Linked DNA regions of Homo sapiens: all the other regions are linked to region 3. Evidence: fine-mapped expression QTL. A gene starts in region 3. Each other region holds a variant in brackets. All regions are shown on one strand. Distances are between the middles of the regions.

Region 1 (8,184 bases), 37 kb before region 3:
CATAATATAATGCTTATAAGTTGCAATAAAGCTATCACTGGAGCAAAGGAGGATGCACTGCCTGGGGTGGCAGCCTTGGACTTGCCCCTACATCTCCACCAGTATAGCTACAATTCAAAAGACTGACCATACCAAGTACTGACAAAGATGGAGAGGAACTAGAACTCTCATGCACTGTGGTGGGAATACAAAATGGTACAGCCATGTGGCTGGCAAAATATTGGCCCCAAGCTGTCGATGTTCTAGCTCCCAGAACCTGTGAATATGCTATCCCATATAACAAAAAGACCTTTCTAGATGTGATCAAGTTAAGGCTCTTGAGATGGGGAGATTATCCAGGATTTTCCAAGTAGGCCCAAGGTAATCACAACAGAGGTAGGTGAGTTAGAGAGAAGAGATGTAACAGTGGAAGTAGAGCTGGGGGGGAGGGAGGGGAAGGAGCAAGAGAGAAAGAGATTGGAAGATGCTATGATGCTGGCCTTGAAGACGGAGGAAGGGGCCATGAGCCAAGGAATGCAGGCAGCCTCTAGAAGCTGGAAAAGACAACCGGGCGTGGTGGCTCAAGTCTGTAATCCCAGCACTTTGGGAGGCTGAGACAGGCAGATCACCTGAGGTCGGGAGTTCGAGACCAGCCTGACCAACATGGAGAAACCCTGTCTCTACTAAAAATATAAAATTAGCTGGGTGTGGTGGTGAATGCCTGTAATTCCAACCACTCAGGAGGCTGAGGCAGGAGAATCGCTTGATCCCGGGAGGCGGAGGTTGCGGTGAGCCGAGATCGCACCACTGCACTCCAGCCTGGGCAACAAGAGTAAAACTCCGTCTCAAAAAAAAAAAAAAACAAACAAACAAAAAAAGAAGTTGGAAAGGACAAGGAAACAGATTCTCCCTTAGCACATCCTGAAAGGCTCTGCTGACACCTTGATTTTAAGACTTCTGACGTCTGGAATTGAGATAATACATTTATTTTGCTTTAAGCCACTAAAGTTTGTGATAATCTGTTATAGCAGCAATAAGAAATGAATACAAGCCACTTTGGAAAATGGTTTGGCAATATCCGCTAATGCTGAAGACATGCCTATCCTATCACAGAATGGAACCTGTGTTTTGATTTACCATGTTGGAAACACTCTTTTTGTAGAATCTACGAGGTGACATTTCTGAGCCCATTGAGGCCTATAAGAAAAAATCGAATATCAAGCGATAAAAACTAGAAACAAGCTAACTGTGAAAATGCTTTGTGATGTATCATTTTATCTCGCAGAATGGAACTTGTGTTTTGATTCAGGAGGTTACAAACACTCTTTATATAGAATCTATGAAGTGACATTTCAGATCCCATTCCACTTCTAGGTATGTACCCAACAGAAATGTATGGGCATCAAGGTATCTGCACAAGCATAACGCTCATAAAAGTTTTAGTCAAAAGAATAAAAAGCTGGAAAAAAACAATGTCCATCCAGCAAGAGAATTGATAAAACAAATTGTGATACAGTCACACAAAGTACTACTACTCAGAAATAAAAAGAAATGAACCACTGGTACCTGTGACAACATAGGTGAATCTTGCAGACATAATGTCAAGTGAAAAGAAAACAAAAAGAGACACAAAGAAGGATATACTTGATGAAAAAGTTCTGGAGATGGATTGTGGTGGTGGCTGCACAACAACATGAATGTACTTAATGCCACTGAACTGTACACTTCAAAATTGCTAAAACAGTAAATTTTATGTTACATATATTTTATCACAATAAAAAAGTATCTCCTAAATGAATCTATTTTAATACAATTTAAAAATAAGCAAAGCAAATCTATAGTGAAAAGAGGTGAGAACAGTGGTTACCTTTGAGAGAAGTATTGACTAGGAGGAGGCATGAAGGAGCCTTCTGGGTACTGAAAGTATTTAACATCTTGATCTGGGTGTGGGTTACATGGTTGTATACATAATCAGACTGTGCACTTAAGATTTGTGTACTTTAGTTTCCAAGTGCCAGTCCCAGTTTTATTTGCACATGGTTTATCTGCATTTTCATAATCAATGCTGTAATGGAAAATGAATAAGAAGGGAAAAAACCATCAAAAGTGTGTGTGGTTGGGGAAGGCTTCAGAGAGGAGGTGAGGTGTGAGCCAAGTACTGAAAGATGAACAGGGTAGACAGGAATGAAGATGGCAGACACAGAGAGGAAAAGAATTCCAGGTGAAGAGAACAGCATGTACACAAGCAGTCACGTGCAAAGTGTGCTGAACATTCTGAGCGGGAGTGGTTACAGGCCAGAGAGATGGGGGTGGAGGGGTAAATTGGAGCCCCATTCCAACATGCCTGAAAACTCCAACAGCAGTTTAGAATATACTCTTTAAGAAGTGCTAGGCAAGTGTCAGAGGAGATTAAAGCAAGAGAATGACATGAAGGATCCATGACAGGGACGGTGACCTGGACGGACGGACAGAGATCCCTAAGGTTCTTCTGATACTGGTGAGGCTCTAGATGACAGAGTCTGACCCAAAGCACTGGCCATGGGGATGCGGTCATGAGAGATAAAGAAGGCAGAACCCTCGGGTTTGGCTGTAATGGGCGGGGTGGGGGGGAGTCGTTCTAAGCTATGTGGCTGGTGATCCCACTAATGAGAAGGGTAGATAGCAGCCATATGCTTCCCTCTGCTTCCTAGGCCAGCTGTGGAGGATCACAGCATCACAGAGTTGGAACGCACCAGTAAGATCACCTTGTGTACAATCTCATTGTACAGACAAGCAACTGAGTTCTAGGGGCCAATGTCTGAGGCCGCAGTTTGTAAGGAGCAAGCTAGAATGAAAGAGCTGAGACTTATCCATTTTACTGAGTACTTGCTAGAGAACAGGGAACACGATTAACTCAGCAAAGGCATCCAATGCCCCCACCAACCTCACTTCCTGCCACGGGGTTCTCTGGCCTAGGGTGTGGTTGAGGTCCCTGCCAACCTTTTGCTGGAAAAGCTCTGCCCACAGCTCACCCAAATCCTGCATAGCTAGCTACTGGTTTTATCTAATGGTTTGGTAATGGCTTGTAAGTCAATCTGGTTTCTCCAACCAAGTTGTGAAACTAAAGACCCTGGCTCCAGTTTTTACTCTTCAGTTGTGCCAAGTTGAAAAGCTGAGACAGGACAGAGAGGATTGGCTGACTGTGGGCACTCCAGGGCCACCACGGAGCCAGGAACAAGTCTTGTCTACCAGTTCGATCACTGTCCTACAGACCTGATACAGTGTCAAGGAGCTAACTGCTGGTTCTGTTCTTGGTGGCCTACCAGCATCTGAGAGTGGTTGAATGACAAGTGCCAAATATCAAAGCCTGTACAGGAGAAACCAAGAGTAGGTGGGTTTGAAGTAACTTTGTTTGAGATCTGAAACTCCTTCCTCATTCCTGATCCTAATCTGTCGAGGTTAGTCAACA[G/T]CTAGTTAATTGTACAGTCCAATACAGAAGCTACTACTATATGTGCTGATATAAATTCAATTTTTTTAAATTTAGAAACAATTAAAAACTCAGGTCTTCAATGCTCAACAGCCACATGTGGCTAGTGGCCATCATATGGAACAGTTCAGACCTAGAACATTTCCAACATCACAGAAAGTTCTACTGGACAGTGTTGTACCTTGCATGTCTTATCTCTGCTTGAATTAAGAGCCATTTGCTCTGATATAATCTTTACATGCCAAAGTGTAAATAATCCTTTTGATTTTTAAGCAGTAAAGATAAAACTATGTACCACAAAGGACATTCAACACTCCCCAGTAGAAAGGCACTGAGAACCCTTGGGCCTCTTGGTTGAAACAGAGAAACTAAAACACAACTAAGAGAAATTAAAGTTGAACAGGGTATAGTGAAACAGTCCATTTTCCTCACTTAATTGTTCTTCTATAAAAAGGGTTAATCTCATCCCAGAAGATTAGGGATATGTGGAGCTCAATGGACTATTAATAAGAAGCAATTATTCTTCAGAAAAAAATTTGTGACTGGCAAAAGTAAAATCAAGTGAAGTGGAAATTTAGGTGGGTGAGGAGAGGAAAAAGGGAGAGCAGGAACATGTTTTGCAGTAAGAAAATGGCAATTAAAATGCATAATTTTTAATGTTTAGTTTATGATGTTTTTGAGACAGAGTCTCGCTATGTAGCCCAGGCTGGAGTACAGTGGCACAATCTCAGCTCACTGCAACCTCTGCCTCCCAGGTTCAAGCAATTCTCCTGCCTCAGCCTCCCGAGTAGATGGGGTTACAGGCGTGCGCCACCACACCCGGCTAATTTTTGTATTTTTAGTAGAGAGGGGGTTTCGCCATGTTGGCCAGGCTGGTCTCGAACTCCTGACCTCAGGTGATCCACCCCTCTCGGCCTCCCAAAGTGCTGGGATTACAGGCATGAGCCACCACGCCTGGCCTAGAATTAGTGATTTTTTTAAAAGAGCTTTTGGTCTGTAGACATAACTACAACTGCTTAAAAATATTGATTATCTAGCTAATGAAAATGATCAATGCTAAATTTTATTCATAACACGTATCTCCACCAGGGGAAAAATTACCCAGGTACAAGGAAAGCTTCCACTGAAGGCTGTCACAGTATTTCACCACCCACTGTCACCCCTGACTGGTGATCAAGAAAACTAAACAAATACAATTAATAGGGTAGAAAAGAGCAACACCTGCTAAGAGGTGATGCTATCCCCATGAACAATACACTTTCCCTCTGGTAAATGTAGTGCTGAAAACGCGCTAGGTATTGAAGGAAGAGAACATACAGGAATCCCATGGGGGGCTGTTTTTAAGAATAAGCACATCAGCAGAATTCGGTTTTGCCCAGTTTACGATTCAGACGGTTACTTCAAGTTAATAGCACATATTAAGGTGTTGTTCTGAAACAGGGACATAGAGCACTGCTTAATAAAGGGCTGCAGGTGCCTGGTGAGACTCCAGCTGCGAGGTCATTTCCTGCCCTCCCTCCCTCCTTCCAGAAAAGATTAAGATTGCTTATATAAAATACAGTAGAAATAAATACAGAAAGTAGGAGAGAAAGAGAAAAACAAGGGTAGGGATAAAAAATGGAGCTGAAAAGGACGTTAATCCCATACATCTACCACAGCAACCAGAGTACCACACTGGTTGAGTTGCTAAACCAAGAGTCAACTCTGAAGGAATCAGTGACCAACGGTGAAGACAGACCAACTGCTCAGGAAGGAGACAAGCTGGTCTGGGAAGGGGTTCATCCTGCAGGCCCTGAAGCAGGTGCTGGGTAATCAGTCCACTAAGGCCATCTGTAACTAATGGCAGCTCTTTCACATCAAACCTAGAAAGATGGAGGCAGAACCAGCCCAGATACACTGGAACTTCCCTGTTTAATGGTGTAGTTCCCAGAGTTAGGGCATCTGTCCTAACAGTCAATCAGTACCTATTGGTCAGAATCAGCAAGTGGCTTCTGTGGACAAGGCACTAGGAAGACATGACACCAGCTGGGGAAGATGACCAGATCGAATCTCACAGAGCCCATTGAATCCCGACTCAGCAGACCCTACCCAGCAGCAGGGATTCCTGACCCCGACCCCAACACCAAACCCAGGAGATCCTAAGCTGGCTAATACAGCTCTCTCCTCCCACAGTTATGGTTCCATGTTTTTTCAATACCATGCTTTCTGTCTTAGTCTGTTTTCAGTGGCTATAACAGAATACCACAGACTGGGTAACTTATAACAAACAAATTTACTTGGCTCACAATTCTGGATGCTGGTGGTGTCAGCATCTGCTTGGCATCTGGTGAGGGCCTTCTTCTTGCATCAAAACATGGCAAAAGGGCAAGCAAGCCCATGATACAGAGAGAGCAAATGGGGGCCAAACCGAATCCACTATCAACAATAATCCACTCATGAGGGCAGAGCCCCATGGCCTACTCACTTCTTAAAGGTCCCATCTCTTAATGCCATCACAATGGCAATTTTGACATGAGTTTTGGAATGGACATTCAAACCTTAGCACTTTTCCTCGATGACAGCTTAATAATTCCCACAAAGCCAAGTCCATCCCCTTTCCACAGTCTATCAGGTCCCCAAGACAATAATCTGTGTGAGGACCCACTAGTCACAGCCTTGGTGCACTCCCTTCACCCAGGCTGGGGAAAGCAAAATCAGGATATCCCTTCAAAAGCCTGGGGAATCCGGGCCTGCTTTGCCTGATATGGGGGAGCCCATTCCATCAAAGTGTGTTTCCATTTCCTCTACATTCATGAAGAAGAGATCCAAGCTGGACTCACTACCACAGCACACATACTGTGCTTCACGCCATACTTGACAGCACAGTCATCACACTGAATACTTAGTCACCATGAGACTCAATGTAGACCACAAAACTCCCTGCGTGATGGAAATGCTCTAGGTCAGTGCCGTACAATACAGTAGCCACTAGCCGCAGTTGGCTATTGAGCACGTGAAACGCAAACAGTCCAAATGGAGACACACTAGAAGTGTAAAATAGACATGGAATTTCAAAGACTTGCTGCAAAGAAAAGAATGTCAGATATCTCATTAATAACGTTTAATATTAATTACATGCTGAGGCTAGGTGAGGTGGCTCATGCCTGTAATCCCAGCATGAGACCTGTCTCTATTTAAAAAAAAAATTCAAAAATGATCCAGGCATGGTGGCACTCACCTGTGGTCCTGGCTACTTGGGAGCTGAGGTGGGAGGATCGCTTGAGCCTGAGAGGTTGGGGCTGCAGTGAGCTGTGATGGCAGCACTGCACTCCAACCTGGGCAACAGCGCGAAACCCTGCCTCTACAAAGAAAAAAAAAAAAAGGACTACACACAGAGCTGATGAACTTTGGAGGTTTAGTAATGACGGCAAGGGCGGTAGGCTCGGGGTAGCCCACAGCAGAGGGCGGTGGGGAAAATGATGAAATCTAATGTGCTGTCTGGTTCTTTCAGCAGAGACAGAAGGAATGCTCATCCTTGGAGAGGATTGTGAGGGACCTGGTTTCACACAGGGGAAGCCAGGATTGGTTGGTTGTTTTGCCAAATTTTACCTACTTTAGGGAAGGAAAGTGTGGTTAAGGGAGAGAACTTGGTACATAAGAGGATGAAGGGGCTGGGCGCGGTGGCTCAAACCTGTAATCCCAGCACTTTGGGAGGCCAAGGCAGGCAGATCACTTGAGGTCAGGAGTTCAAGACCAGCCTAGACAACATGGTGAAACCCTGTCTCTACTAAAAATACAAAAATTAGCTAGGCGTGGTGGCATGTGCCTATAATCCCAGCTACTTGGGAGGCTAAGGCATAAGAACCGTTTGAACCGGGGAGGTAGAGGTTGCAGTGAGCCAAGATCACGCCACCGCACTCCAGCCTGGGGGATAGAGAGAGACTCTGTTTCCCGCCCCCCCCAAAATTAATTAATTAATTACATGCTGAAAGATAATATTTTGGAACATACTTGACTAAGTAAGTTGTATTATATTAATTTCACCGTTTCTTTTTCTTAATGTGTCTACTAGAAAAATTAAGATTACATATGTGGCTAGCATTCTGTTTGTATTAGCCAGCACTGACTTCTATTATTTGGTCTTTTTATTTTTAAAATTTTTTTCCTAGACGCCAGGCCCAGTGGATAGTCTTTTTCTTTAAATTGACTTATTTTCGCTTAGTTTTTGTAGTTTTTTCACTTTTTACTCATTCTGAAAATATTCAGAAACTGTAGCATGATGTACTAGTTGTAGTTTTAAAATAAATTGAAGAATCAACAGAACTATTAATCTAAAGTTAAAAAGATAAGTCTGTCCACATGCAATCTAAAACCCTCTTATGTACCATACCCTTTGGGAAATACTGGCCCAGGGCAGAGCTATTCAAAGTGTGTCCTGTGGACAGGTGCCAGTCTCTCTTTTTTACGTTTTTTTTGTTTGTTTGTTTTTTTCTTCAGGAAACCCTGAGCAGCCTAACCCTGATGGGCTGTGGGGAGGGAGCACAATCTCTTTATTATTCATTATCAATCTGCAATAAAGAATAAAGGCATAAATTGAGAGCATGCTTCTTTTTTATTTTATTTTTTTTTTTTTGAGACAGAGTCTCACTCTGTCACCTAGGCTGGAGTGCAGTGGCGCCATTTCAGCTCACTGCAACCTCCACCTCCCTGGTTCAAGCGATTCTCGTGCCGCCGCTTCCCGAGTAACTGGGACTACAGGT
Region 2 (8,156 bases), 170 kb after region 3:
TACACACGGAAACCCACATACTCTATGCCTGATTGTGAAAAGTTATAAAATATTATAAAATGTATTCTATCATCTTCTTGACATATCAATATTGGCCTGGAAGGCCAGGTCCAGATTTAGAGTTCTTGGCCTCCTCAGAGTTCTGCACCAGAACCTGATGGTACAGGGTGAGCCAGCCCCTGGCTCCTGAGCCCAGCCAGAGGTCAAGCTCCCTTTCTCTTCCCACCCCAGAATCCTCCAAACACCACGAGGGGTCTTGCACAATGTGGATGGACACCCTGCCTACGTGTCCAAGCTCTGTTTACACAGCCCCAAACAACTGCCCTTTGATGGTTCCTTGGGACTAGAGATGTGCTCATTTGTAACACGGTCTGCTGTTGGGAAGATGGACCAGGGAAGGGGACCATGGTGGCTGTGGAAGCCAGCTCTTGGTCCCCTGGGCAGTGTATTCTGGGGTCCTGGTACCTGGATTGTGGTCTAGGTGGGGCACAGGCTCTGGATGGGCATAGCCTTTTGACCCTACTGACTCCTGCCCTATGGGGAAGAATGTGGCTATGGGGGGTATCAGAGCAGAACCCATTAAATCATGGGGCTCAGGGAAGTAGCCCCTTTTGCTGCTTGCTACCTTTGAGTGTGGCATTTTTGCTTGCTACCTTTGAGGAGGAACAAGGAAGCTATTCCTATATCCTCAGGATTTGAACTGTGATGATGGAGGAGATATGAAGCTTTCGTTCTGTAGAGGGTCTATAAAAAGTAAAGGAAGGAAGAAAAGGAAACCAGAATGTATGGAGCATCTGTGCTGAGCCTGGCTGTGTGAAATACACTTTTGCTTGTGTGATCTAATTTAATCTCCCGAATAACCCCGGGAAGTAGACTTTGCGTGCTCCTGCATAAGGTTAAGAAAATAAACTTAAGGAGGTCACTTCCGTGCCCAGAGTCACATAGCCAATGAGCCAGGGAGCACAGGCTCAAACCCAGGGCTCTGGCTATTTCTAAAGCCCATATTCTTTCCACTACAACACATTGCTTTGAAAGACCTCCTCAAAGAAAGACTTCCTCAAAGAAAGACTTCATTTGTAATGAGAGTAAAGAGCAATATAGAAAGTAAAATCTCACACTGTTCAGACATGAAAATCACGGCAGGAATCCTCATTCCAGGACTGATTCCTGTCTTGAGGTCCCCAGCTCTCCTGGGAGTCCTTGACAACAGTATGTGAGTTTATGAGCTTTAGGTATTTTTAAAAATTGAGGTAAAATTTATCTAGGGTGAAATGCACAGATCTCAGACATACAATTTGAAGAGGTGTTTTTATTTTTTTGCAAATGCAAACACTCATGTAACCACTACCCCAATCAAGACAACAGGGGGACTCTAGCCAATAATAATTTAATTGTACATTTAAAGAGAACTAAAAGAGTATAATTGGATTGTTTGTAACACAAAGGATAAATGCTTGAGGGTACGGATACTCAATTTTCATGAAGTGATTATTATGCATTGCATGCCTGTACCAAAATATCTCATGTACCCCATAAATATATACACCTACTATGTACCCACAGAAACTAAAAATACAGAAAAAATTTAAAAAGATATTTATTTCCTCAAGACACGTCCCTCGCTCCAGAAATTTCCCTGTGCCTCTTTCTAGGTAATCTCCCCACACAATAGGCAAACACTGCTCTGATTTCTATTACTATGGATTTGTTTGACCTGGTTTAGAACTTCATGTAAATAGAATCACACAGTATGTATTCTTTCTTTTGTATGTGACTTTTTGCTCAGCATGTTTTTCAAGATTTATCCATATTATTGGATAAAAGGTGTTCTCTCCTTTTTATAGCTAAGTAGTATTTCAGTGTATGAATATATCACAATTTGTTTATTCTTTCACCTATTGATAGGCACTTGGGCTCTTTTCTATTTTTGGCTTATAAATAAGGCTGGCATAAACATTCTTGTACATGTCTTTTTATGAATATGTGTATTCATTTATTTTGGGCATATATCTATGAAGGGAATTGCCTTGTTGTATGGTAGGGGTAGGTTTAATTTTTTAAGTAACTGCTAAAGTTTTCCAAAGTTGTTACAGCATTTTACACTCTTACCAGCAATGTATAAGAGTTTCAGTTGATAAGCTTCTGTAAATTTAAAATATTTAATTTTGAAATATTTTAATCATAAAAAGAAAGGATAATATTAATAACTGATAACCATGTATCTATCACTAAGATTTAACTTGTTAATGATTTCCTGTATTTGTGTCAGGTCTTAATAAGTGAAATATTACAGATATACTCAAAGGCCGTCTCCCCCATCTTCATCCTTTTCCTCCTCCCTGGAAGTTACAATCATCCTGAAGTTGCTGTGTATCCTTACCATGTCTATTTTTATTTTTATTTTTATTTGAGATGGGGGTCTTGCTCTGTTGCCCAGGCTGGAGTGCAGTGGTACAATTATAGCTCACTGCAGCCTCAACCTACTGGGCTCAAGTGATCCTGCTGCCTCAGCCTCTCAAGTAGCTAGGACTACAGGTTTGCACCAATGTACCTGGCTAATTTTTTTAATTATTTTTAATTTTTTTTTGTAGCGATCCGGGTCTTCTTTGTTGCCCAGGCTGGTCTTGAACTCCTGCCCTCAAGTGGTTCTCCTGCCTCAGCCTCCCAAAGTGCTGGGATTACAGGCGTGAGCCACTGTGCCCACCTATTTTTAGATATAGGACATAGTATATGAACCATTTTCAATATTTCAACAATTCTAAAAAAGATGATGTATTTTTCTATGACACATCTGGGCATAGTATTTGAAATAGCAGCCATCTTAATAAAAAAGTCAATTTAATACTTTAAACATTTTTATTTCCTGCTTATTGTTATTTATTGATTCTAATGTATATTAATTAGGTTGTTTACTCAAAATTTATAGAAAATGGGGAATATTAATTTTTATTTTAAAAGGTAGATTATGTGGCAGATGAAAATCTTTCAAAGCTTGGAATCCTTCAAGGGAAAGCAATGAAGAAGTTCTTGGCGGTTGTACTGGTGGGAACTGTAGAGCTAATACAACCCTCCTGTATTATGGATAAGAAAAAACCGAGTCACATACCAGTTGTGACTTGCTAGGTTTTTGCAGTTAAAGCATACCAGCTCAGGACCAGAACCAGGCCTTCTGATATCCATTCTAGAATTCTCTTGATCACCCCATGCAGCTTCCATGCCACTGAAGGCGATCAAAGATGGAGAAGGAAGAAAGGAGAGAAGAAAATGTGATGTGGAGGCGGGAGGAAGGAAAAACTTCATAAAAACACGACGGCAGAAATGTGGTATTTTAAGCAAGACGTTTGCCCTTCATATGAATGATTCTTGGATTTTTGGTGTATATTTTTGGTAGCAGTATGCGGTGAGTCACTAACAAAGAGCTTGAGACAGATGAGTTAACATAAATGGACCAAAATAAGCTGTGGTCTCTAGGCTGAGCAGCTGTTGGACAGACCTGCCAATATTTTATTTCCCAGAGACACTTGCAGTGGATTAAAGTGAGCACGCGGCAAATGCCTCATTAGAAAATTCCATACCTTTCAGAGTTTCCTGTGCCTGAGATGCGGCTTTCCAGGGGAAAGGCAAAAACTCCTAGCTATTTATTGAAGTTTCACTGTGTGGAAGAGGGTAGGCAAGAGGGGCTTGTTGGTGGAGGGATAACACAGAGAGGCAGAGGAATCAGAAAGTCTTAGGTTTTCAGCCCCAGTTGTGCCACTAAGCTGTGTAACTGAGGTGGGACTCCTTTAGCCTTCTCTGTGGTTGTTTTTCATCTTCTGAATGATGAGCTTTTATACAAAGATCTCCTAGGTCCCTTCCAGTTTAAAAATGTATAGTTCTCAGGCCAGGCGTGATGGCTCATGCCGGTAATCCCAGCGCTTTGGGAGGCCAAGGCGGGTAGATCGCTTGAGCTCAGGAGTTCGAGACCAGCCTGGGCAACATAGTGAGATCCTGCCTCTACAAAAAATACAAAAATTAGCTGGGTGTGGTGGCTCACACCTGTAGTCCCATCTACT[C/T]GAGAGGCTGAGGTGGGAGGATCACTTGAACCCAGGAGGTGGAGGTTGCAGGGAGCCAAGATTGAGTCACTGCACTCCAGCCTGGGCAATAGAGCGACACCCTGTCTCCAAAACAAAAATTATAGTTTTCATTAATTAAGTGCTAACTTTGTGCCAGGCACCTTGCAAAATGCTTTACATACTGATATTTCTCCTCCATGAAACCTTTGAGGTTGTTTCAACAGTAGTCTCATTTTCAGATAAAGAAACCGAGGCTTAAAGATAGTAAGAAACCTACCTGAAGTCACGTAGCGAGCAGTGGCAGAGCCTGGACTCAAGCCTGAGACTGTCACAGATATTTGGCTGCTTAATCACCGTTCTGCATTGCCCTTTCTTTCTAAGCAGGACATTAGGAACTCGTTGCCTTCACATCCCTCTTCCTCTCCACCATTTTATATGTTTCAAATCGTTATGCTTCAACTGGACTGTAGTGGATTTCCAGGTCCTAATTGGAGCACCTTGCTGCATCCACATATATATACTATGGACTGTGGATGAATGACATTAAAGATAGTAAATCAAATTCAGGACACACACCTCATGCAAGACAGAAATAGTGTTGAGTGGAGCACAGCAAGGCCATTTGATTCACTGGATCTTCGTCGGCTTGAGTATTTTGTACGTTCTCTCCACTGGACACTCTGTACCCAATGTTCCAACTGATTTCGCTGGCAGAGACGTCTTATGAGAAGATACCTTATTTGAAGAGCCGTTTCAATAACCTCCTCTATCCTGATTTAATATGATATGGCCATGGCAACGGCAGTAATAGTGGCAGCTCCTTTGTTCCCTTTTGTGAATGACATACAATTTAAGCACCTTTTTGCACAGCCTCTCTTCCAGTGAAGACATCAGATGTAGGGAGAACATCCTTATCTTTAATATAAAATAAAATAAATAAACTCTAAGATTGTGGGTGATGTTATCTAACTTCTGTTCAAGATGAGTCTTTAGTTGGTTACTTAAAATATTGTCTTTAAGTTCTACTGGGATATTTATGAGTGAAATCACACTTTCCATACTTCTGTCTTTGATGTCTGCCTCTATAGAAATGGAGAACTGAAACAATATCTAATAATTCAAACCAAAAAGCCAGCGCTGCTTATATTGTACTATTTGGATGTTTTAAAGTATAGAAACTTTGAGCTGAAAGGGAAGGAAATAAACATTCAATCTTCTTGTTTTAAAAACCGTTTTACTGAGGTGTGATTGACATACAAAACACACTCAACCTTCTAAGTCAAAAAGCAAGTGTTACAGTATGAAAGATTACATTAATGACCTTACTTCTTCACCTCTTCCTTTACCAGGTGACCTTGGAATTTCATCCACTGAAGAGCCAGAGTCTATTTTCCTTTCCTTTGAATCTGGGCTGGCCCTGTAACTTGTTTTGGGCAATAGAATGTGGTGGAAGTGATGGTGGGCCAGTTCCAGGTCCAGGTCTCAAAAGGCCTTGAGTGTTTTCACTTACTTCTGTGTTTGCCACGAGAACATATCCAGGTTATCCTGTTGGAAGATGGGACATGAGGAGCAGAGTTGAGTCATTCTAGTCATTGCAGCTGAGGTTATCCTAGATTAGCTGAGCTGCAGATGACTGTAAGATCCATGAGTGAGTCCAGTTGAAATCAGAAGCACTGTCCATCTGAGCCCAGCCTAAATTGCCAACCCACAGACTTGTGAACACAATAAATGGTTATTGTTTAAAGACACTGAGTCTTGGGGTGTTTTATTACACAGAATTATGTGGTCACTGATAACTGATACAGAAAGTGAGGCTTTAGTTGTCAGGAAAACATCCAGGAAGTACCTAAGGATTGGAAGGATTGCAGGAAGTAGCAAGAATCAAACTGCGATTTAACAGTAATTTGAAGTCTTTGCAAATCAGCATGGCTATGGATCCCCTGCCAATAGTTATGCTGCATGCATGTACTGAGTCTATTATTAGCAAGACTCTGTGCTAGGTAGAATACCTAGTGAATGGGAGTCCAGGAGAAGTAAAAGTAAATGGTGGACCTGATTAAGAGAGGCTGACCATGGGAATGAAAGTGGGCCACATGGCTGATGACATTTATAGTGGTAGAGAATAGTGAATTCAAGGAGCTGGGTGTGGGGCCAAGGGTCAAGGAAAGACCAGTGAAAACAAGACGAAGTTAAAGGCCCAGATAAAGAGAAAGATACTGAATCTCAGTCATGGAAGAAAATGCCTATATTAGATACAGATGTGCTGGGAAATTAACATCTCCAGCCCCAACCTGCCAGCAGCAATCCTCAACCAATGACCCCTGGTCTCTCGGCTCTTGGGTAGGATAATTCTCTTTTTTTAAAAAACATAATTTCTTTTTAAATATTTTTTTAATTCTTTTATTTTCCTTTCTTTAGAGGTAAAGTCTGAGATTTTAGTGCACCCATCACCCAAGTAGTGTACGTTGTACCCAATATGTAGTTCTTTTATCCCTCACACTCCTCCCACCCTCCCCTCTTCTGAGTTTCCAATGTCCATTATACCACTCTGCATCCCTTTGTATACCCATAGCTTAGCTTCCACTTCTAAGTGAGAACATGCGGTATTTGGTTTTCCATTCCTGAGTTACTTCACTTCTCATAATGGCCTCCAGCTCCATCCAAGTTGCTGCAAAAGACATTATTTCACTCTTTTTCTGTGGCTGAGTAGTGTTCCATGGTGTATGTATGCCACATTTTAAAAATCCATGCATTGGTTGATGGGCACTCAGGCTGGTTCCATATCTTTGCAATTGTGAATTGTGCTGCAATAAACATACATGTACAGGTGTCTTTCTGATGCAATGACTTGTTTTACTTTGAGTAAATACCCAGTAGTGGAATTGCTGGATCAAACGGAAGATCTACTTTTAGCTCTTTAAGAAATCTCATGTCTGCAATCCCAGCACTTTTAGGAGGCTGAGGCCTGTGGATCACCTGAGGTCAGGAGTTCAAGACCAGCCTGGCCAACATGGTGAAACCCCATCTCTACTATAAATAGAAAAAATTAGCCGGGCGTGGTGGCAGGCGCCTGTAATCCCAGCTACTCGGCAGGCTGAGGCAGGAGAATCACTTGAACTTGGGAGGCGGAGGTTGCAGTGAGCTGAGATCATGCCATTACACTCCAGCCTGGGCAACAAGAGCAAAACTCCGTCTCCAAAAAAAGAAAAAAAAAAGAAAGAAAGAAGAAAGAAAAAGAAATCTCCTACTGTTTTCCAGAGTTGTTCCTACTGTTTTCCAGGTTGTGCTAATTTACATTCCCACCAACAGCATATAAGCATTCCCTTTTCTTGGGTAATTCTGAAGCATGTATTTTATCCCTTCCTCATAATTTCCCCCACTGAATTAAGCTCCAGTCACCTACTGTGGCAGCTGGCTTAATAACACACCCTTTATCTGCTGTCTTCACTTCCCCACTTACTCCAAGGCCCCTAGATTCCTCTCTGTTCCTTAAACAAGCTCAGTTACTTCCTGCGCTAGGGCCTTTGTGGTTTTACCCTCTGCCTGAAATGCTCCTCTTCTGACATGTGCATGGCTGCCATCTTCTTGTTATTCAGGCTTAAAGTTCACCTTGTTAAAGAAGCCTTGCCTGGTCACCAAATCTAAAGTACCTTCATCATCTGATCTTAATTTTCCACATTGCTTTTTTCACTATCAGATGTTTTACTTATTTGTTTGCTTGTTTTCATATGTTGTTGGTAAGAGTGTAAATTAGCACAAAACCTCTGGGAAGGTTGTTGGGCAGTAACTACCAAAGCCACCTATGATCCAGCAATTTCATTCCTAAGTATATATTTAGGAGGAATGTATATTTATGTCCATCAAAAGCCATATTCAAGAATGTTTACTGCAGCTTTATTCATAACCGGGACCAAACCAAATGTTCATCAATAGGAAAATAGATAAATAAATTGTGAAATATTCAATGGAATATCCTCAATGGAATACTATACAGCAATGAAAAGAATGAGCTACTGCTATACACAACCACATGGATGAATATCACAGAAATGATGAAGAACAAAAGAAGCCTGGCACAAAAGAGAACATATTATATGATTCCAC
Region 3 (8,184 bases):
CATCTCAAAAAAAAAATTAAAAAATCCCACATATATATTTCTTTATATGTGTGTGTACAGATGAAGGATTTAAGGGAGTTTGTTGCACTAATACTGCAACTTTCTGTAGGTTTGAAATGACTCGAAATAAAAGTAACAGGAAAGGGCAAACGATCCAGTTAGGATTTATTTGACTAGTGCTATGTATCTTGGTCTGGCACTTACAATATTCTTCAGTCTAATAAAATCAGTTAACTGTTCAGTTTCATTTTATTGTAGTTTACGAAGTTATATGCTAATGGCACTGGAGAATGGAGAGGTCTATAAGGGCCTCAGGCTCATCCTTCAAATGTCCATGGTCTACTCAACATATTATATGTACCATTCACTACCAGAAATGCTAATCATAGAACTGCCAACTAAATCACAGAACTGTCAACCATAGCTCAATTCCCTCTGAACTATACGACACATTCTTAGTTCCCAGTACTTTGGGAGGTCATGGTGGGAGAATCACTTGAGCCCAGGAGTTCGAGAATAGCCAGGGCAACATATGAAGACCTCATCTCTATACAGTTTTTTTTTTTTTTTTTTTTTTTTTTTTGAGACAGAGTCTCCCTCTGTCACCCAGGCTGGAGTGCAGTGGTGTGATCTCGGCTCACTGCAACCTCCGCCTCCCAGGTTCAAACAATTCTCCTGCCTCAGCCTCCTGAGTAGCTGGGATTACAGGCACGTGCCACCACACCCAGCTAATTTTTGTAATTTTAGTAGAGACGGGGTTTCATCATGTTGGTCAGGCTGGTCTCGAACTCCTGACCTCGTGATCCGCCCGCCTTGGCCTCCCAAAGTGCTGGGATTACAGACGTGAGCCACTGCGCCCAGCCTAAAAAAATTTTTAAAATTAGCCAGACGTGGTGGTGTGTGCCTGTAGTCCCAAATACTCGGGAGGCTGAAGTGGAAGGACTGCTTCAGCCCAGGAGGTCATGGCTGCAGTGGGCTGTAATCGTGCCACCACACTTCACCCTGGGCGATGGGCAAGACGCTGTCTCAAAAAAATAAAGTCCCCAGCTAAAAAAGAAAGGATGTTATTTTAAAAAGCGTAATTTATGAAAACACTTACCCTGACCATCCTCTTTGAATACCAGTTCTCTTTTTTCAGATTCATTCTCATTCTTACCCCTGCGTCTGTTTTTACCTCCTTTACCTGATGGTTTAAAAAAAAGAAAAGGAGGTAAATGACATTAATTATCTGTAAAACAGTATGAAATAAAATGAAATTAAGGCTTATAAAACCATTTTTTAAAAGATCACTTAAATTAAAAAATTCATCTATTTTAGCTACACAATCATATTAAATTTACAATCTCCAATCCCAACATTAACACATTATCACCTCCCTACCCTTCTTGGAATTTCCTTTGGGGATTTTTCTGACATAAAATACACATAAATAGCAGATATTATGTTAAAAAATATAGAAAAACATTTCACTTTAGCACCCATCCTTTTGAAATAAAAATGCAATTCTATACATATTCTTCTAAGCGGAAATCTTGGGTGTCTTCTAAAGCCAGGCCCTATGCAAGGAACCCGATACTTTCAAAATTAAGTGAAGACAGTGTCTGGACAGAGAACTGTGGTTTTCAAACTTTTGGTAGCAGAGTACCATAAATATTGAAATCTCACTGGGTGCAGTGGTGTGCGCCTAGGGTCTCAGCTACTCAGGAGGCTCAGGTGGGAGGATCACTTGAGCAAGCCCAGGAGGTTCCAGGCTAGCCTGGGCAACATAGCGAGACACTGTCTCTTAAAAAATAAAGAAGATCTGTTCGGTACCCAATTTACTTTCTTTTATAATGCTGGTCCCTACTCAACATCCCTGTTTCTATTATATGACCCCAGTGACCATGCTCTTAACCACTATGCAATAATTCTGCCCATTTACTTGTCACAATCACCCCATGAGGTCATAACATTCATTTATTCCCAGTTTACCCATGAGTTCCCTGAAGCTCAGAGAAGTTAAGTAAGTCGCTTAGCTTCAGTGAGTAAATCAGTTCACTGATTACAGTCAGTAAGCTGGGGTGACCAAAGTCACAATGTTTTTTTTGCCCCTAGCCCCCACATAAGCTTACCTCTCCACAGCATTTTGCTCCCATTCCAGAAAGGAAACCACATTGGCAGCCATTTCCAAAAGGCAGGAAAAAGGCTGTAAGTGGTAATGACCCTAAGAGACTCATGGGAAGAGCTTGGAAGCAGCAAAAAAAAATGGAGGACACTTAAATTAGGTCATGAAAAGTACCATTCCTCTAAGTAAGATAACTAAGAACTGATTGGTTTCAGACAGTACAGGAATGATAAACACCAAACTCAGCCTGGTGATTACCTCCAAAAAGAGAGTAAAAGGTGATTAGGGCTTTACCTCAATCTGCGCTGTAATTCTTAAATTCAGAGTAATGGGTTCCCAGGTATATCATGTTAGCTGTATTTTTTGTATGCCTCAAATGTTATTTAAGAAAAGACTAATTACTTGTCAATTTACCAGAATTAACCATACCCGGATCACTCCCCTTTGTATTTTATTGCCATGTAATGGGATGTTCTTTAAATTCTCTGTTGAATGAATGAGACTAGGTCTGAGTGTACAACAATTAAAGTGACATCAACATTCTTTAAACCAGAGTTGTTTTGGAGAAATTCCCAGAGAGGCTCTTTCTTAAGACATGAGGCTAGGGAACTAGATGTGATTTAGTGTAGAAGTCCTATCCCCTTGGAACCAAAGCAGAACCTATTATTCACTAAGGGTGGAGTCGACAGGAGGTAGGTGACTTAAACCAACAAATATTTATTAAGCATCTACTAATTGTCAAGTGCTGGCAATCCAATGAGATTAAGACAGATACTATTCCTGCCTTGTAGAGCTTACAGCCTGGTGGAAGAATTGGAAATCTTATTACTAGAAATAAAGGTGAGAATAAGATGGAAGTGATCCCCTTACCACCTCAGAGAGAATAAAGGATTATACAGAAGAAAACTGTAAGACTTTAAAATTTTTTGTTTATAACTCCATCTTTTCCAAAATAATGAGCAGTGACTGCACCAACTTGTGCACAGAACACCTCGACCAAGTACCCTAAGGGATAAAGTAATAAGTGACAGCTACAAAGAGGAAATGTGGTAGAATCCCTGGAGCCAGCTGTCAAGTAGAAAAGAGAGCAGAAGTAGGCCTGTGTCAGGGGAGGGTTTCCTCTAGAATGAATAATCAAAGGAGACTACTTACGGACTATGAAGTATGCTCCTCTCCTGTAGGAAAATACAGTATTTTCCCTATATTTACTTGCACAATTTTCTTCAAGTTATACGGCTATTAAAAATGACAGGAACACTGTAAATCTATAAAAGTAATTTCTTTAGGAGTGTTCTGTTTTTTGTTTTTGTTTTTTTTTTTTTAAGATTAGGCCTTCCGTTTTGGAAATCCCAAATAAAGTTATCCTCAAGTCTGATCATTTGTGAACGCTTAGCCTCAGAATGGAGGACACTTAAATTAGGTCTTTATTCTCACAACATATGCATCATCTGAAGCAAAAGTAGAAAACTTGGCTCAATATGGAATAAGTCTTCAGCAAACAAACATAAGCTATATCCTGTAAAGGGATGGAGAGAGTAAATCTCTAGAGGTGAGCCTTAGAAATGTATCAAGGTTTCACCCACTGTTCACAAGGGACAGCGAGTAGCCTCAACAATACTGAACTGTCCATAAAGAAACCCATGCAGGAGTACCTGGTGCTCACGAATGCAGACAGCACTCTGAAAGTTCAGAACGGCTTCCAGGGATTATAACCCCTCATGCCCGGGAAGGCCAAAGGGGCCTATCTACTAAACCTAGGCCGCCCCGGGGAAGGTTCCCGCCACCGTCCCCACCGAGCAGCGGTCAGTCTGGCGCGAATCAGGAGCAAAAGCCCACATTCTCCCGCAGGAGGCCCTACAAAAATGGCGCCGGCTCCACCCCAATGTGACCAAACTGGGCAACAGGAGTTAACTTCCCAGCTCCTCTCCCGAGCTCAGAGTCGCGTGTGGGGCGCCCAGCCGCGGGCAGGCAGGGCGGGAAGGAAAAAGGGTCACTGCGGCCTGGGTGACCTGCAATCTACGGGCAGGACCTGGGAGACCCGGCCGAGCAGAGCCGTGGTCCGGGGGTCCGGGCGGCATTACCTTTATTCTTGGGCATGGCGGTGGCGGCGACCTCGCGGCGTCTCTGACTTCTTTCCGGGTAGCGGCGACCGCGGCGGCTGCTGCTCCGAGGGGCGACACGAGGGAGCGCGCGGGACCAAGTAGGTGCTGGAGGCCAGGCAACGTGCGCGGGAGAGGCTGGCGACCCAGCTCTTCAGAGATCCGCCTGCGTCCACGCTCGGCGGCAGCAAATGGCGCCGCGACTCTTTGCGTCGCTTTTCCCCGCCTCCCGTCGCCGGCTGGGCCCGCCCCCAGGCTTTATGACGCAGGCGTGGCCGACTGACTCCTATTGTTAGAGCCGAGGGAGACGCGTTGTGGGAGGGTGCGCAGCAAGCCAGAGAGGACGCGAGGGGCAGGGCCTCAAGCAGGGAAAAGGCGGAGTCAGGGAGGGAGGGGGAGAGACTCTGCGTCATAGAAAAGGGCGGGTTGAGGTGGCGCTTGCTGCTGGTTAAGACCAGACCTCTGCTGCTTTGTAGCAAACGCGCGTCTCCCGGTTTCACAAGTGGCTGACTCGTTAACCTCGTGGTTAGCTCAGTTTTTAAAAAATATGTATATTTTTATTTTTATTTTATTTTTTGAGACGGAGTCTTGCTCTAGAGTCGCCCAGGCTGGAGTGCAGTGGCGCGATCTCGGCTCACTGCAACCTCTGCCGCCCGGGTTCAAGCGATTCTCCTGCCTCGGCCTCCGGAGTAGCCGGGATTACAGGCACGTGCCGCCACGCCCGTCTAATTTTTGTGTTTTTAGTAGAGACGGGGTTTCAGCATCTTGGCTAGGCTGGTCTTGAACTCCTGACCACGTGATCCATCCGTCTCGGCCTCCCAAAGTGCTGGGATTACAGGCGTGAGCCACCGCGCCCGGCCAATATTTTAATTTTTTTATTAAGATGGAGTCTTGCTCTATCGCCCAGGCTGGAGTGCAGTGGCGCGATCACGGCTCACTACAACCTCCGCCTCCCGGGCTCAAGCGATTCTCCTGCCTCAGCCTCCCGAGTAGCTGGGATTACAGGCATGTGCCACCATGCCCAGGTAATTTTAGTACTTTTAGTTGAGACGGGGTTTCACCATGTTGGCCAGGCTGGTCTCGAACTCGTGACCTCAACTCGCGCCCACCTCGGCCTCCCAAAGTGCTGGGATTACAGGCGTCAGCCACCGTGCCCAGCCGGTTAGCTCATAACGCAGTCCTTTCACTCGCCCAGCCGGGTTGGGAGCCTGATGGGAAGGGCAAGGCTTTCCTGGCATCCATTACCAAAGCATAATATTTGCATGGCACTTGTTATTACTCTTTAAGTCTGTCTGTCCTACCTCACTGTAAACCTTACCGGGCAGAGACCATGTTTGTTGCTTACCATTACCCCCACTTAGCTGAATGTCTGGCACATAATAGGTGTTCAATACACACAGAAAGGAAGGGAGGGAGGGGAGAAAAGACTTAAGCTCAATGTTAATGGGCTGAATTGTGTCCCCCCCAAAATTCGTATGTTCACGTTCTAATCCCCAGTAACTCAATGTGACTGTATTTGGACATAAGTTCTTCAAAGACGTGATTAAATTGAAATGAGGTCATTAGTGTGGACCCTTATCTGACTGGTGTCCTTACAAGAAGATATTATTAGGCCACAGGCATAGAGGGAGAACACCACGTGAACAAGAAGGTAGCCATCTATAAGCCCAGGAGAGAGGCCAACCCTGTTGACGCTTGATTTTAGACTTTCAGTCTCCAGAACAATGAGAAAATAAATTTCTGTTGTTTAAGCCACTCAGTACGTGGTACTTTGTTATGACAGTCCTAGCAAACTAATACAGCTGGCTAATGCTGGGCTGTACTCTACAAGATTTATTTCTAAGTAAACTTATTTTGACTAAACCAAGTAAACTTATTTTAAATAAATCACCTTTCCACAAACACCAGGGTTTGCACATACTTAGAAGACAGAAATAAAGTATCATCATCTAATATAGTGGTTCTTTTCTGTGAACATTTGGCAGCGTCAACCAGAAATGTTTCTGGTTGTCATAACTTGAGGAGGGGGGCAGTGATGCTGGCATCTAGTGGGCAGAGGCCAGGGATGCGGCTAAACATCCTACAGTGCACAGTACAATCTCCCCTCCCCCATACAAGCAAACAATTATCCAGCCCAAAACATCAGCAGAGCTGATATTGAGAAACCCAATGACAGATGCACTTCTTAGAGTGAAATTGAAAGATAATGGGGGACTCAAAGTTCTGGGTTTCTCTTTCTATCTGCAATATTTTTCAATTTACATAATTGAGGATGAAAGGATTTTTTATGAAATTTATTTAAATTTTGCTCCAAGGTCAAATAATTATGAACTTGAGCTTTGGAGTTAGAGAGGCCTGGGTTCAAATTCAAGCTCTGCAGTAACTTATTACTCTATTTTCTTGGGCAAGTTTTAATCTCTTTACAAGCTTCCGTTTTCTCATCTGTAAATTGGATGTAGGAATAGTACTAACCGGCCAGGCGCAGTGGCTCACACCTATAATCCCAGCACTTTGGGAGGCCGAAGTGGGCGAATCACCTGAGGTCAGGAGTTCGAGACCAGCCTGGCCAAAATGGTGAAACCCCATCTCTACTCAAAAATTCAAAAATTAGCCGGGTATGGTGGCAGGCGCCTATAGTCCCAGCCACTTGGGAGACTGAGGCAGGAGAATCACTTGAACCCAGGAGGCGGAGGTTGCAGTGAGCCAAGATCGCGCCACTGCACTCCAGCCTGGGCAACAAGAGTGAAACTCCATCTCCAACAAACAAACGAACAAAAAAAAAGAAAAAAAAAAGAATAGTACTTACATTAGGTTGTTGCAGGAATTAAATTGATATAATGCATTCAATTAGCAATTGTGCCTAGTACATGGTAAGTAGTTAGACTCTAAGAGTCCGGAACTCTAAATGTTTAAAAATAAAAAGTTTCTGTCAATTACCCAGTATAAAACCTCAAAGAGGAAAAAAAAATATCAGGCTTCATTTCTCTACTGTAGGATGGTTCCCCCATCTGACTGATCATCTTAATCACTTGGAAGGAAGTGAGTCAGGTGGACATCTGGGGGAAATGTGTTCTAGGCAGAGAGAACAGCAAGGGCAAAGGCCCTGAGTGGAAGCATGCTTGGTATATTCAGGAAACAGCAAGAAGCCAGGTGCAGTGGCTTCCACCTGTAATCCCAGTGACTCAGGAGGCTGAGATGGGAAGATCGAGCTTGAGGCCAGTAGTTCGAGACCAGCCCAGGCAACATAGCGAGACCCACCCCCCCATCTCTAAAATAATAAACACACGACAGTAAAAAAAGCCAGGCATGGTAGTTCACATCTGTAGTCCCAGCTACTTGGGAGGCTGAGGCAGGAGGATCCTTAGAGCCCAGGAGTTTGAGGATGCAATGAGCTATGATCGTGCCACTGCATTTCAGCCTGGGCAACAGAGTGAGACCCCATGAAAGAAAGAAGGAAAGGAGGAAGGAGGGAAGGACATAAATGAAGGAAAGGAAAGAAGGAAGGAAGGAAGAAAAGAAAGGTCAGTGTGGCTAGAATGCATTGAGCCAAGGGAAGAATTTGAAGAGATGAGATTGGAGAAGTAAGGAGGCCAGATCACTTGAATCTTCAGTAGGTTTTTTTTTTTTTTTTTTTTTTTTTTTTTGAGACAGAGTCTCGCTCTGTTGCCCAGGCTGGAGTGCAGTGGCGCGATCTTGGCTCACTGCAACCTCCGCCCCCTAGGTTCAAGTGATTCACCTGCCTCAGCCTCCCTTAGTAGCTGGGACTACAGGTGTGCGCTACCGTGCCTGGCTAATTTTTGTATTTTTAGTAGAGACGGGGTTTCGCCATGTTGGCCAGGCTGTTCTCGAACTGCTGACCTCAAGTGATCCACCCGCTTTGGCCTCCCAAAGGGCTGGGATTACAGGCATGAGCCACTGCGCCCGGCCTTTCAGTAGGTTTTTAAATAGATCATTTTGGTTTCTGTGTTAAGAACAGACTGT

Direction of the effects. Positions count from the first base shown, and alleles are read on the strand shown. Sizes are in standard deviations (SD) of each study's normalised expression. Not every link is listed here.
For the expression in prefrontal cortex of the gene that starts at base 4,399 in region 3, G is the high allele of the variant in region 1 and T is the other (small effect, 0.27 SD a copy in GTEx).

The links. PIP is the estimated chance that this variant, and not a neighbour inherited with it, causes the effect.
Region 1: its variant is the best candidate, but not a certain one, in a credible set for the expression of EIF1AX in prefrontal cortex (GTEx, PIP 0.85).
Region 2: its variant is the best candidate, but not a certain one, in a credible set for the expression of EIF1AX in sigmoid colon (GTEx, PIP 0.66).

The regions. Positions count from the first base shown.
Region 1 is chrX:20,100,196-20,108,379 of GRCh38, forward strand. All of the region lies in intron 1 of MAP7D2 (MAP7 domain containing 2), which reads right to left. Among named protein-coding and RNA genes, the nearest start is that of MAP7D2, 13 kb to the right of the region's middle. The variant G/T (reference allele first, on the strand shown) is at 3,428.
Region 2 is chrX:20,306,562-20,314,717 of GRCh38, forward strand. No RefSeq gene overlaps it. Among named protein-coding and RNA genes, the nearest start is that of RPS6KA3, 44 kb to the left of the region's middle. The variant C/T (reference allele first, on the strand shown) is at 4,053.
Region 3 is chrX:20,137,440-20,145,623 of GRCh38, forward strand. EIF1AX (eukaryotic translation initiation factor 1A X-linked) reads right to left here and starts at 4,399. Exons shown (of 7, transcript NM_001412.4): 1 at 4,186-4,399; 2 at 1,100-1,183. The coding sequence starts at 4,201. EIF1AX-AS1 (EIF1AX antisense RNA 1) reads left to right here and starts at 2,529. Exons shown (of 2, transcript NR_046592.2): 1 at 2,529-2,796; 2 at 2,896-3,005. RefSeq lists enhancers at 3,641-3,800, 4,131-4,400, 4,461-4,510.